Linked DNA regions of Homo sapiens: region 1 is linked to region 2. Evidence: fine-mapped expression QTL. A gene starts in region 2. The other region holds a variant in brackets. All regions are shown on one strand. Distances are from middle to middle. Region 1 has its middle 28 kb from the start of PTPRD-DT. Region 2 holds the start of PTPRD-DT (PTPRD divergent transcript).

Evidence for each region. PIP is the estimated chance that this variant, and not a neighbour inherited with it, causes the effect.
Region 1: its variant is the best candidate, but not a certain one, in a credible set for the expression of PTPRD-DT in prefrontal cortex (ROSMAP, PIP 0.85).

The regions. Positions count from the first base shown.
Region 1 is chr9:10,638,733-10,644,119 of GRCh38, reverse strand. No RefSeq gene overlaps it. Among named protein-coding and RNA genes, the nearest start is that of PTPRD-DT, 28 kb to the right of the region's middle. The variant TAAA/A (reference allele first, on the strand shown) is at 3,239.
Region 2 is chr9:10,610,301-10,615,687 of GRCh38, reverse strand. It overlaps PTPRD-DT (PTPRD divergent transcript), which reads right to left and starts at 2,482. Exons shown (of 3, transcript NR_110696.1): 1 at 2,262-2,482. PTPRD (protein tyrosine phosphatase receptor type D) reads left to right here and starts at 2,686. Exons shown (of 46, transcript NM_002839.4): 1 at 2,686-3,000; 2 at 3,183-3,290. RefSeq lists a silencer at 2,532-2,741.

The DNA of each region.
Region 1 (5,387 bases), 28 kb before region 2:
CCAGGATTACATAAAGGAAATATATAAATCAAGGAAATATTCTTAGACTTTTATAGAAATTTAGGAGAGCATAAATATCTAAATTGTCAGAAAGTTTAGGGAAAAATAAAAAAACTTTTATTTCAAGAGTTGTAAATGGTTTAAGTTTAGTATGAATGTGTGTTCTTTCCCCTAATTTATTTCAAGTTACCAAAATTCTGGCAGACTAATAATATGTTTTGATACAGAACTTTTGGATTTAATATTTTTTTACTTGGCTCTAAAGGATCAGATGGATGGTTAGCCTGGCAATGCTGGTGGGTGTTTTACTAGAATTATCATGACCTTCTTCAGATGTGTGTTGGAAATGGTCTTTGGGTAAATGATTACTAAGGTGGCATAGCTAATATTAAAGTGGAGTGCCAAAAATTGAACACTTGAGCTTTATAAGCCACTTAATGAATAAATTGCAACACATTATATTAACCTAACAAAGTAATTGTTAATCGGTTTAATTTTAAGAAATCAGTCTTTGTCTATGCTGTCTTCTCTGATATGTGTGTATCTTAAAAAAAAAAGCTGCAATAAGGATAAAGGATTTATAATGGACAGCATTTCAAGATACTTTTCATGGAACAAAACCATCTGGATAATTTTTATCTTATAAAATTTCATTTAAAAACAACAACAAAAGCCCCTAACATGCCATTACTTCTTTTATGTATTTGCTTTCAATACAATTTGTATTTATTTTCAGAACTGTTAGGAACGAAATGTGTTTTTTTCCTTCATAAATAAGATATACGCTATAAGCACCATCGAAATGCACAAAGCCAATTAACTCTGTTTCAGAGCTACAGTAAAAATGCTGCATTTTGCTTCTTATATATAGCAATAAGAAAATATTTTTTCCTTCATCAACGTTCAAAGTTGTATCAAAGCAGTGTTGCTTTTTTGTGGAATAGAAAAAGCACTGACCTTCATGACTGCATTTCCACATATTAGCAAAATGACCTTGGACTTGTCACTTAAACTTTACGAGTCCCGGTTTTCTTCTGTATAAAAGAGGGATAATAACTGGCCCTTTAACTACTGGATTATTGAGAATGTCAAATGACATAATGGATATTAAATCGCTCTTAAAATTAAAGCCATATTGTGATTGTTATTATTACAGCTCTCTTTGTGTTTTTTATAAGCCTTTAATAAAAAGATGTACTTTAGTAACCACTTAAATTATGTTACTATAGATGATAGAAAAGTTATGTATAAGAATAGCTAAAATAATCATTTACAATGTTGACATCAATTCTGAACTGATATTATCGGGCAAGTAAAAAGCTTAAGAGAACATTTAAGGTTACCTGACAAAACAGGAATTATTATATAATATAAGATGTTTTATTCATGTTAGTTGAGCAATGTTGAACAAGTTAAAAGTGACATTTAAACCAGAGTGGAGGAGTTAAGTGTGAATCAAACTTGTATTTGCCAAAATAGGTACCTGGTATTCTTACAGATTTTGTGGATAAAAATAATTTTAAAAGTTTATTCACACTAGATGTATTTTTCTTCATGTAAGACCCATATTTTAAAGGCTATTACTATAACAATTTTTTGTACTGAGTTTATTCGACATTAGTGTTATGAAGAAATTTTAGAAAATCTGGAAACCCTCTATTGATGAGAAACTGTAGTTATTAGGAAAAATAGTGGAAAAATAATGAGGTTCAAAATTAAGTGACATTTTGAAAAGACCAATATGAAGAAAAGGAAGAATTGCAAGATGGAAATTAATGTAACCTTTATTTAAATTTAGATTAAGGCTAAAAAACCTGAGTATCTTAGCTGACTGTAAGTCTAAGCTATAAACCAGAGCAAATTTTAGATTTGGAAATCATATTGCTGAAAGATTTGTTTGAAATATGCTTCTTCTTCAGTTATTTAAAGTCCAACAGTGTGTTTGTTTCAGATAAATGAATCTAAAAGATTTCCTTTACTAAATTCTAAAAAAAGAAAACAAAAGAAAAGAAGAAATTCCCAGAGGAAATTTAGGTATCCAGTTTAGATAGTCTGAATATGATGGATATTAAAACGCTATCGACCTAGGAGTCAATAACTCGACGAAACAAAATTAATTCTACTTTCACATCCTTACAACTTCAGTCCCTTTGAAGGAAAAAGAAAATCAGTGTAAAGTTTTGTTTGATTAGGAATGTGTACTTTATGTGTCCTTTCAAAATGTGACTTATTTTCAAGTATCTTTGTTCAAAATAGTTTCATTGTAGGGGGAGGGGATTAGCAAACTGATGCTTCCTTTCTCATGCTCAATAAATATTTATTTGTATTTCATGATTATATTGACAGAGTAAACACAAACCATAATATACTAAACAACTGGTCCTTTTGCCTTCCTTTTAATGGGCTTAAAAAATGAGTTTAATATGCATAATACCAATAATCATCTTTATTTAGCTTTATCTCTGTTACTTTTGACTAGAGAAGAAGTAAATGCAACGTAAAAAATATAGTTTTTTTGCTTCTGTTCTACAGACATTTAACAAATCAAAAAGGTATATTTTCAATTAATATAAAATCATTGATTTGGGGTCCTAAAATACAAGTTTAAATGTTTTTCTTGCCATTTGAAATTTATAATTTAAGAAAATTACCTACCTCTTATTTTAATTATCTGCAAAATGCGGCTAGTGACCTACCTCACAAAGTTATTGCAAATTTTAAACCAAAAGCAGCTTATGAAATGCTATTGTGCCCATTGTATATAGTGATATAAATGCTAGTTGTTATAATATTGCTGTTAGGTGGGTACAAAAATAATTGGACATGACAAATGCAAAGAAGAAGAAGGAAAACCAGTCTAACACAGATAGAATCCATCTGTTCTGATATCTTGATTTAACGGGATTATGTCAGCCCAACTCCAGCGAAGGATGAAAATAAAGGCATAAATAGGGAGAACTGTGTGGACATACTTTAGAACAACCGAAACAAGAAGGTTAATTTATTGGTATTCGATAAAAACGTACTAGTGAGCTGAGAACACCATCTGAGAAGGATCAGCGTGGGGTCGGGGGAGGGGGGAGGGATAGCATTAGGAGATATATCTAATGTGAATGATGAGTTAATGGGTGCAGCACACCAACATGGCACATGTATACATATGCAACAAACCTGCATGTTGTGCACATGTACCCTAGAACTCAAAGTATAATAATAATAATAATAATAATAATAATAA[TAAA/A]CAGCTCCCACTCATCTCTCCTGTCAATGAACATCTGCTTACTATGTTAATGGTTAATCTAAACTTCAGCCTCTTCAAGAAGGCACACACACCCCCCTCCTCACAGCCCATTAAATCTCAGTATCCAAAGCTCTGTTTGTGGCAGGAAACATGGAAAGCAGTTTGAGTATGTTCTCTTTCTTTTTAGGTGGCAAAAGAAACTTCAGGGATTCCCTTGTTGGCACAGCCATGCTCTGCATTTGAAACTGAAGGGTAGCAGAATATGTTCCTCAAAATACGCAAATTTGATATAAGGATTACTTTGACCTAAAGGCACCTGAAAAAGATCAAATGCAAAAAGGGCATTCTAATCCCTCCTTTCTTCCTGAAACCTGGAGATAAAAACTCTCAAGTGAAAGATGCTCTCCCTGTACCAGAAGAAAAGAAACATTCTTTCCTGGGGAGTCATCTATGAGAGAATCTGTAAAGATAGTGTTAAAGTAATTTTTTTCTTCCTTTAGTGTCCCCAGATAATACAATTACTTTTAAACAATTGTCTCTCTTTGTCCAAACTAATATAAAACCTTTAGGTTTTGCCACTTCTTTGAATCTTTATTTCCTTATGAGTCTTTCCATGTGATATGGCTTGGGACTGTGTCCCCACCTAAATCTCATATCAGATTGTAATCCCCAGTGTTGGAAGAGGGGCCTGGTGAGAGGTGATTGGATCATAGAAATCCCCCTTGCTATTCTTGTAATATTGAATGAGTTCTCACAAGATCTGGTTGTCTATAAAAGTGTGTAGCACTTTCCCCTTCTCTCTCTCTTCCTTCTGCTCGGGCCATGTAAAATGTGCCTCCTTCCTCTGTACCTTCCACCATGACTGTAAGTTTTCTGAGGCTTCCTCAGGCATGCTTCCTGTACAGCATGCAGAACTGTGAGCCAATTAAACCTCTTTTTTTTTCTTTTTATAAATTACGTAGTGTCAGGTGGTTCTTTATAACAATGCAAGAACAGACTAATACGTTTTATCACATAATGCTCATATTAAATTGTATGCTTTTCTCATGTTGCTCTAGCTTATGTCAATTTAATTCTCAGGCCCAGTCAGGACCCTACAAGAGTAGAAGTAAAGTTTTGCCTCCCCTATAGAACAAGTGGAAGACTGGTTGCTGTACATTGTAATAATGTTACAGATAATAGTACTGACAGAGAGTATGGTTAGTGTGTTGTAGGGCTTACCTGGACTCGCAGGGGCTGAATTCTGACAAGATGATGTCCTATTTAAGTCAGTGAAATTTGAGCAGTAGGATCTTGCCTCATCAGTAATATTGTGCATTTTTCCAGATAATCTCAATGTCTCATTCAAAGGGGCTTGGGATTTTGTGACGATACCAATACAATTTGATGAAAGCTGCTTATTATGTTCTCGGAAATGGGAACAACAATGTACACTTCAGCCTTGTGCTATATAAACCAAAATAGATGTGCAATGGCTTCTTCTATCACTATCTATTCCTTTCCTATCAGAGAACCCAGGTAACATGTAACTTAGGTGGCTAAGCACACGGCCTTGCTTTTTCTGGTTCACTATTGTGCCTCTTGATTCTCTTGCCTCATGTAATCTTTACTGAATTGCTTGGTTCTTGTTTCACTAAAATTACTTTAAAGTCTTAATCTTTGTTTATGCTCTTACTCAGAAAACAATATTAACATTTAAAGTCTTTATTAATGTATTTCTGCAGACATTTTGGCTCCCTTTCAATTGACCGTTGCTGAGCAGTGCTGCAGATTTCAGACTCTAACCTACACCCTGTCAATCTTTGTTTTCTTGAATAAATTACAGTCTCTCCAGGAGTGATCTTTTGAGGTGCTTTAGCCATGTATGTGGCATTTAAAGACAGACCCATGTTGGCACAGTAAGATCTGTTCAATTAATACCTGTTGAAAATCTGCTATATGCCAAGCATATCAGAGAAGGAAACAGAAAAAAAAATTGCCTTATTGGAGTTCATGTTCTAATGAGGAATAGACATAAGCAAATAATTAATAAGAATATATGCAGACAGCAATAAGGCAATGGAGAATAATAAAGCAGAGGAAAAGGATGTGCCAAGGGGCCACAATCTAAATAGTTTGGTCAGAGAAGACTTCACTGCTAAATGGA
Region 2 (5,387 bases):
TACTGATTTTTAAGAGTAAATATATGGCAATAACTTAAAGCGGACATTTGCATCTGCCTTTTTATTGAAGAAGGAGAAATAAATTATAATGTTACAGGAAGTGTAGCTAGGTAGTTAGATAATAAAATTTTCTTAACTCCTTAAGCTTGGTGCAATCACCTTCAAGTAAGATATCTCAATCCAATTCTCAGATGTAATTAATAATAAAATCTCTACAATAAGCTAATCCATTGAACATTTGTGATATTATTATGTGGGGAGGAGGTAGGAGGAAGGGGATTGAGTATAACACTGATTCTTCCATTGTTTAAAATATTCTTTGTTTTCCAGAGGACACCAAAGGATAGTTGTACAGGAGCAAGAGTAAATCAGCCCCAGGGAGCACTGTCTCTGTGAGATCCCAGCCTGGAGCTGAAGTAGAGAAGAGTTTCAAGTTGCTGAACACCCCCATGCAGCAGTAAAAAGATATAAGATATCGACACGCTCAGCTGCATCTTGTTAAAAGCTTCCTGCGGGTTGGCAGAATGAAATCTTTACTTAAAACACACAAACTATTGTCAAGGGAAAGATGGAAAAGAGAATACAGTAAAAGGGCCAAATGCTTTGCTTAACCCACCAGAAGCAGTAGAAAGGGAGAGGTGGTCACGTTGTCTTTGCAACAACAACAACAGAAAAGGTGACTAACACAACCACATCAGCCTCCATCTGCTCTTCCCATGGTTTCAAGATGCATTATTTCTTTTATTATTAATTACTTGTGTTTCTGAGGGAGGACAAATATATTATTGTGACTAGCAAGAGAGGAAATCATTTCTGCTTCTACTTGGCATTAAGTACAGTAGTGTATGTAATGACTGAGGGATGGCAGGAAACAGAGCGGCATCATTGAGACCAGCCTCCCTCCTACCAATCCACTCCAACTCGCCCTTGGTAGTCAGAGGCTGCCTAACAGAAAGTTCATGTAAAACCATTATTGAACACTGACAGGAAGGAACTGAGACAGGAGTGAGTGGTGTGTATTTGTGCAGAAAGGGAGAAGGAGGGAGGGAGAGAGAGAGAATATGAGTCAGTCATCATCATCTTGGGGAGACAGCACCGTAAGAGGGGCAAGTGCTTTGTATAATTACAAAAATATGTACACATGCACACACACTTGCACATATGGTGTAATTTTTTTTCGTTCATATCTTGTCATTTCCAAGAACCTTTTTAAGTGATGATGACTGTTTGTGCATGGGAACCTTCTTGGATGGGTAGGCTCCGTGGCTTTAGGGAGGCTGAGCAGGGAACCCGGCAGCGCGTGGGTTCAGGAGAAGGGTCCCTTTTAAAGAGCAAAGGGACACAGCAAGCAGTGGAGAAGGTATGAAAAGAAAAAGGTGAAGGGACCCTGGGGAAAATTCCACCTATAGTGACTAAGCTTTATTTCTCTTCGGGAGAAAGTGACATTTCTGCGATTAGATCATTGACATATAAGGAAAGTAGATGGATAACTGGTTTTTCGTTGTTCTTTTTTTATTTGTTTTCTTCTACAGTGCTTACAGAACCTTTGACCAGATGGTACCTGGAATGCTCTGTGTTGCATATTACAAACAGGATAATTATTTTGGCTTTTTAGAAAACGCACCGACATGGTGACATTGCTCTCTGTTTATCAAGAGACAGAGCATTTGTTGCCTATAGCTGTATGCTCTGATGAGACATGAAAGATAGTAAAATGACAAAAAGCTTCCTGCTGTTTTTCTCTCATCCTGCCCCTTCTTCTCCCCCCAGCTCCAAACCTTATTTCTAGTTTCGCTGGGGGTCTAAGTTCCTCCTCCCCTGTCTCCCGAGTCTGTGGTACACCACATCTGATGCACTCCGATACCCCACTCTACCTTGGGGTAAGGAGGAGGTGGGGAAGAATCCGCTCCCTGCATCCATGTCCTCTCCTCTGCAGCGAGGCATATTCTCAGCAACTCTTGTACAGGTTTTCCCTTCTCAGCTACCACCTTGGCAGAGCTCTATCCCTCCCTCAAGCCCAGCCAGACTGCCAAGCGCCCCGACTGAAAACTCCATCCAGCTCAGCCGAAGTACACCCCCTCCGCCAAGCAACCCCTGTGCCCCTGCCCTTCACCTCCCTAAGTCTGCTCTTCATAAGCATCGATTCCATTGCAAATCAAATGTACGTCCCCCAGCTATTAACACCCACTACCCCTTAGGTGTTACCGACAGCCTCCCTCGGAAAATAATAATAATAATAATAACCGAAAGCACGCGAACACCTGAAGAAGCACAGATCGGGATCCGCATCTGGACCAGTCCTCTGTGGCTATAGTGATGGGGAATAGCCTGTGCCTGACATATCCTCCTGTTCCCGCGCGAACCGCTTTACCCTGGATCCCTGGAATCGTGCCTAGGCACCCGGGCGGCGGGGTCCGCCCAGGCCGCGTCAGGCAGCTCTGGGCCGGTGGGTGCCGGGTCTCCCCTCCTCCCGCCCCATCTGGCGCGCCCGCAGCGCCGCCGCCGCCGCCGCTTCTCTCCCCAGCGGGCGCTCGGAGCATCCCGCGCCGCGTTCTCCCCGCCCCGGCCCCCGCCCGCCGGAGCGGGGCCCACGCCGCTGGCAGCCATCAAGTGGCTCGTTAAGGAAATGCAGGTGAGTGCGTGAGGCCGAGCGGCAGCTGCTGGAGACGTGGGGTGTGTGCCTGTGAGTGCGAGCGAGACGAGGAGGGAGCGCCAGCGAGCGAGCGAGCGAGTGCGGGAGCGGCCGCCTCGGCTCCCCGCCCAGCCGCGCCCGCAGCCGGCGGCCGGAGCGCGTGGGGGCAGCGCCTCGCCCCGACAGAGCCTCGCCTCCTCCTTGCCGTCTCGGCTGCTTCTCCGAGGAGCCGGGAGCCGCTCATCGGCCTCCCCAACCCTGCGCTCCCCTCCCAGCCCGAGTCCTCCCGCTGCTCTTTCTCCTCCTCCTCCCGAGCCTCCTCCCCTCCGGCGCGGCGCCGCCAGCCAGCCTCGGCGGGGAGAGTGCAGGTACTTTGCCTTCAGAATAATTAGCAGGACCCAAGCCGGCTTTCCGAGCGCGCTTTCTTTTTCTTCCTTTGCCCCCTCCCTCCGGAAAAGAAGATCCCACTTTTGAAACAATCAGAAATCGAAGCACCCCACCAAAGCCAAACCCTGACGGGCTGCTGTGCATGTGCCATCCCTTTTTGCAGTTTATTCTGGGCCTGTGTGGAATAGAAAGACAATTCTTTATTTGACTGGTAGGAAAGAAAAGAGAAGACTCCTCAGGGTTTCCAAGGAGGACTGGAGCGGCTGCTTTAGTAAGTAAACTGTGCTTCTGTCTTTCTTTTCTCTAAAGTGAAGCATATGCTGATGCTTTTCAATGCCCAATGTCCAATGCTGTGGACAGTTTATTCATTTTACCTGGGAATAACTTGACTTATATAACTTCAGTAGCTCCTATTTGAGAAGTGGTTCGCTAAGCATTTTTTTCTTTTTTTTTTTTTTTTGGAAGAGCCCTTAGAAGACTTCGATATGGGATCAGTATGGGCAGCCTTACTGGAAAACTGATTTTTAAACGTTTATTGTTCAAGGGCTATTGGAAGCCTGCTTTGTTAAACATTGGTTGGTTCTAAGATTTAAGGGTGGTTATCTAGAAAAAGCTTGAAAAATCTAACCCTACTGGCTCACTTCTCCTGCCACCTTCAACCTCAGCCCTAATCCATGCTAACTCCCACCCTACTCTGACTTCAGTTGGTTGGTTGTTTTATCTTTAGTTCTGAAAAGCTCTAGAAAAAAAAAGGGGGGGGGGGCGGAAAAGGGAAAGTTAATAAGGATGGTTTGAAAGACCAGATGAAAATTCTGTTGCGATTTCTTCATGCCTGTAAGGAGATAATAATTGGAGGAAAATCCTGGAACTAGAATAGTTGGAGAATTAGAATGAACTTAATTTGGAGAGAGAATGTGAAAAATACTTTGGAGAGGGCAGGGCTGAGACTGTGACTTTGACACAGCGGGTTATAAACTCTGACAGGGCTCAGCAGCCAGTGACAGGTTTAAGGTGTCTCCTAAGGCTGAATATCTCTGCATCAAAAACTTTTGCAGGCAGTATTCCTCTTGGGGCTAACATCACCATGTCAGTAGCTGTAGCATTTCTTTTTACAGAAGTAGGACACTCTTCTTTCTACAAAAGGGTTAATAAGTTCATTATACATATATATAAAAAACATGTAGTCTAACATTTGCCAATATTTTGTAATATCTAAATAAAACCTTTGTGTTATGTCAGGAAAAATATAGTTGACTCAGTTTGTTTTGCACAAGAGGGAGAGAATCAATAACATTTCAGCATTTTTTTCTTTATCACTGCCAAATGGATTCTGAATCTAATTCTTCTTGCATTGTTACATATACAGTAGATACAGTAGGAGTTGCAACTTAGACAAAACAGACCTGATTTTTAACAAATCCTAAGTTTTTTGACATGGTAGTACTTATACTGACTAGAGTCTAATAGTGATTAGAAAAAGTTTATCCCTTTTATCTTTAACTGTTAATTTCTTTCTCAGTATAATACATACTTTTTAATAAAAACCCCTTATAAGTTAAAAACCAGATTGAAAAGTAAAAGTACTTATCTCAGAGAATTTCTTTCAATAAAGCAGCTTATTATTAATTATACCTAAGGGCTTCCTTGTATTTAATTGTTGATAATGGTAGAATGAGTATATTTTTACCTCCTTATTTACTTAAGTGAGTATATAAAAGCATCTGTATTCATGGGGGATTGGTTTTAGAAATTATAAGAGTAAGCTAAGTTACAATTATTACAAAAAAGTAGAGATGTTTTAGAGTTGTTTTGATTACTCAGTGTTGAAAGCTCTAAATATCTTGGGCCATAAGTTTTTAGGGTAATGAGACAGGACAATAGAACAGTTAATGAATTGGTTGACATGAAGTTATCATATATGGAATCATTTGAGAAAGATGTGTCATTGTTTCTTGATTATTATTTAATTTCTTATCCAAATGAGTTTTCTTAGACATATTACTGCTCTTAGCTAACATTTCTATTATTGGTTTAAAAATGAATTTAAGTGATTTAAAATGAAGCCCTTGGCTGATCAGATTTGGATTATAGCACATAACCTCTACTCATTTCTGACCTCACATGTCCGAGAGGCTATCTGATATTTGGAAAAAAAAAAACTTAATTATTGAAAAATAAAGGGGAAGATTGTACCTAAGTAGGGCAAATTTAACAGTGGTTCAAACATGTTATTACATATATTAGTATAGGACATATTTTACACAGTAGAGAAGACATGACAGATTTGTGCATTCTTTTTGAATTTCTGAAAGCAAATATTTGTAAGTAACATTAAAACTAACCTGACATACATTCTGCCTCTGTTGTA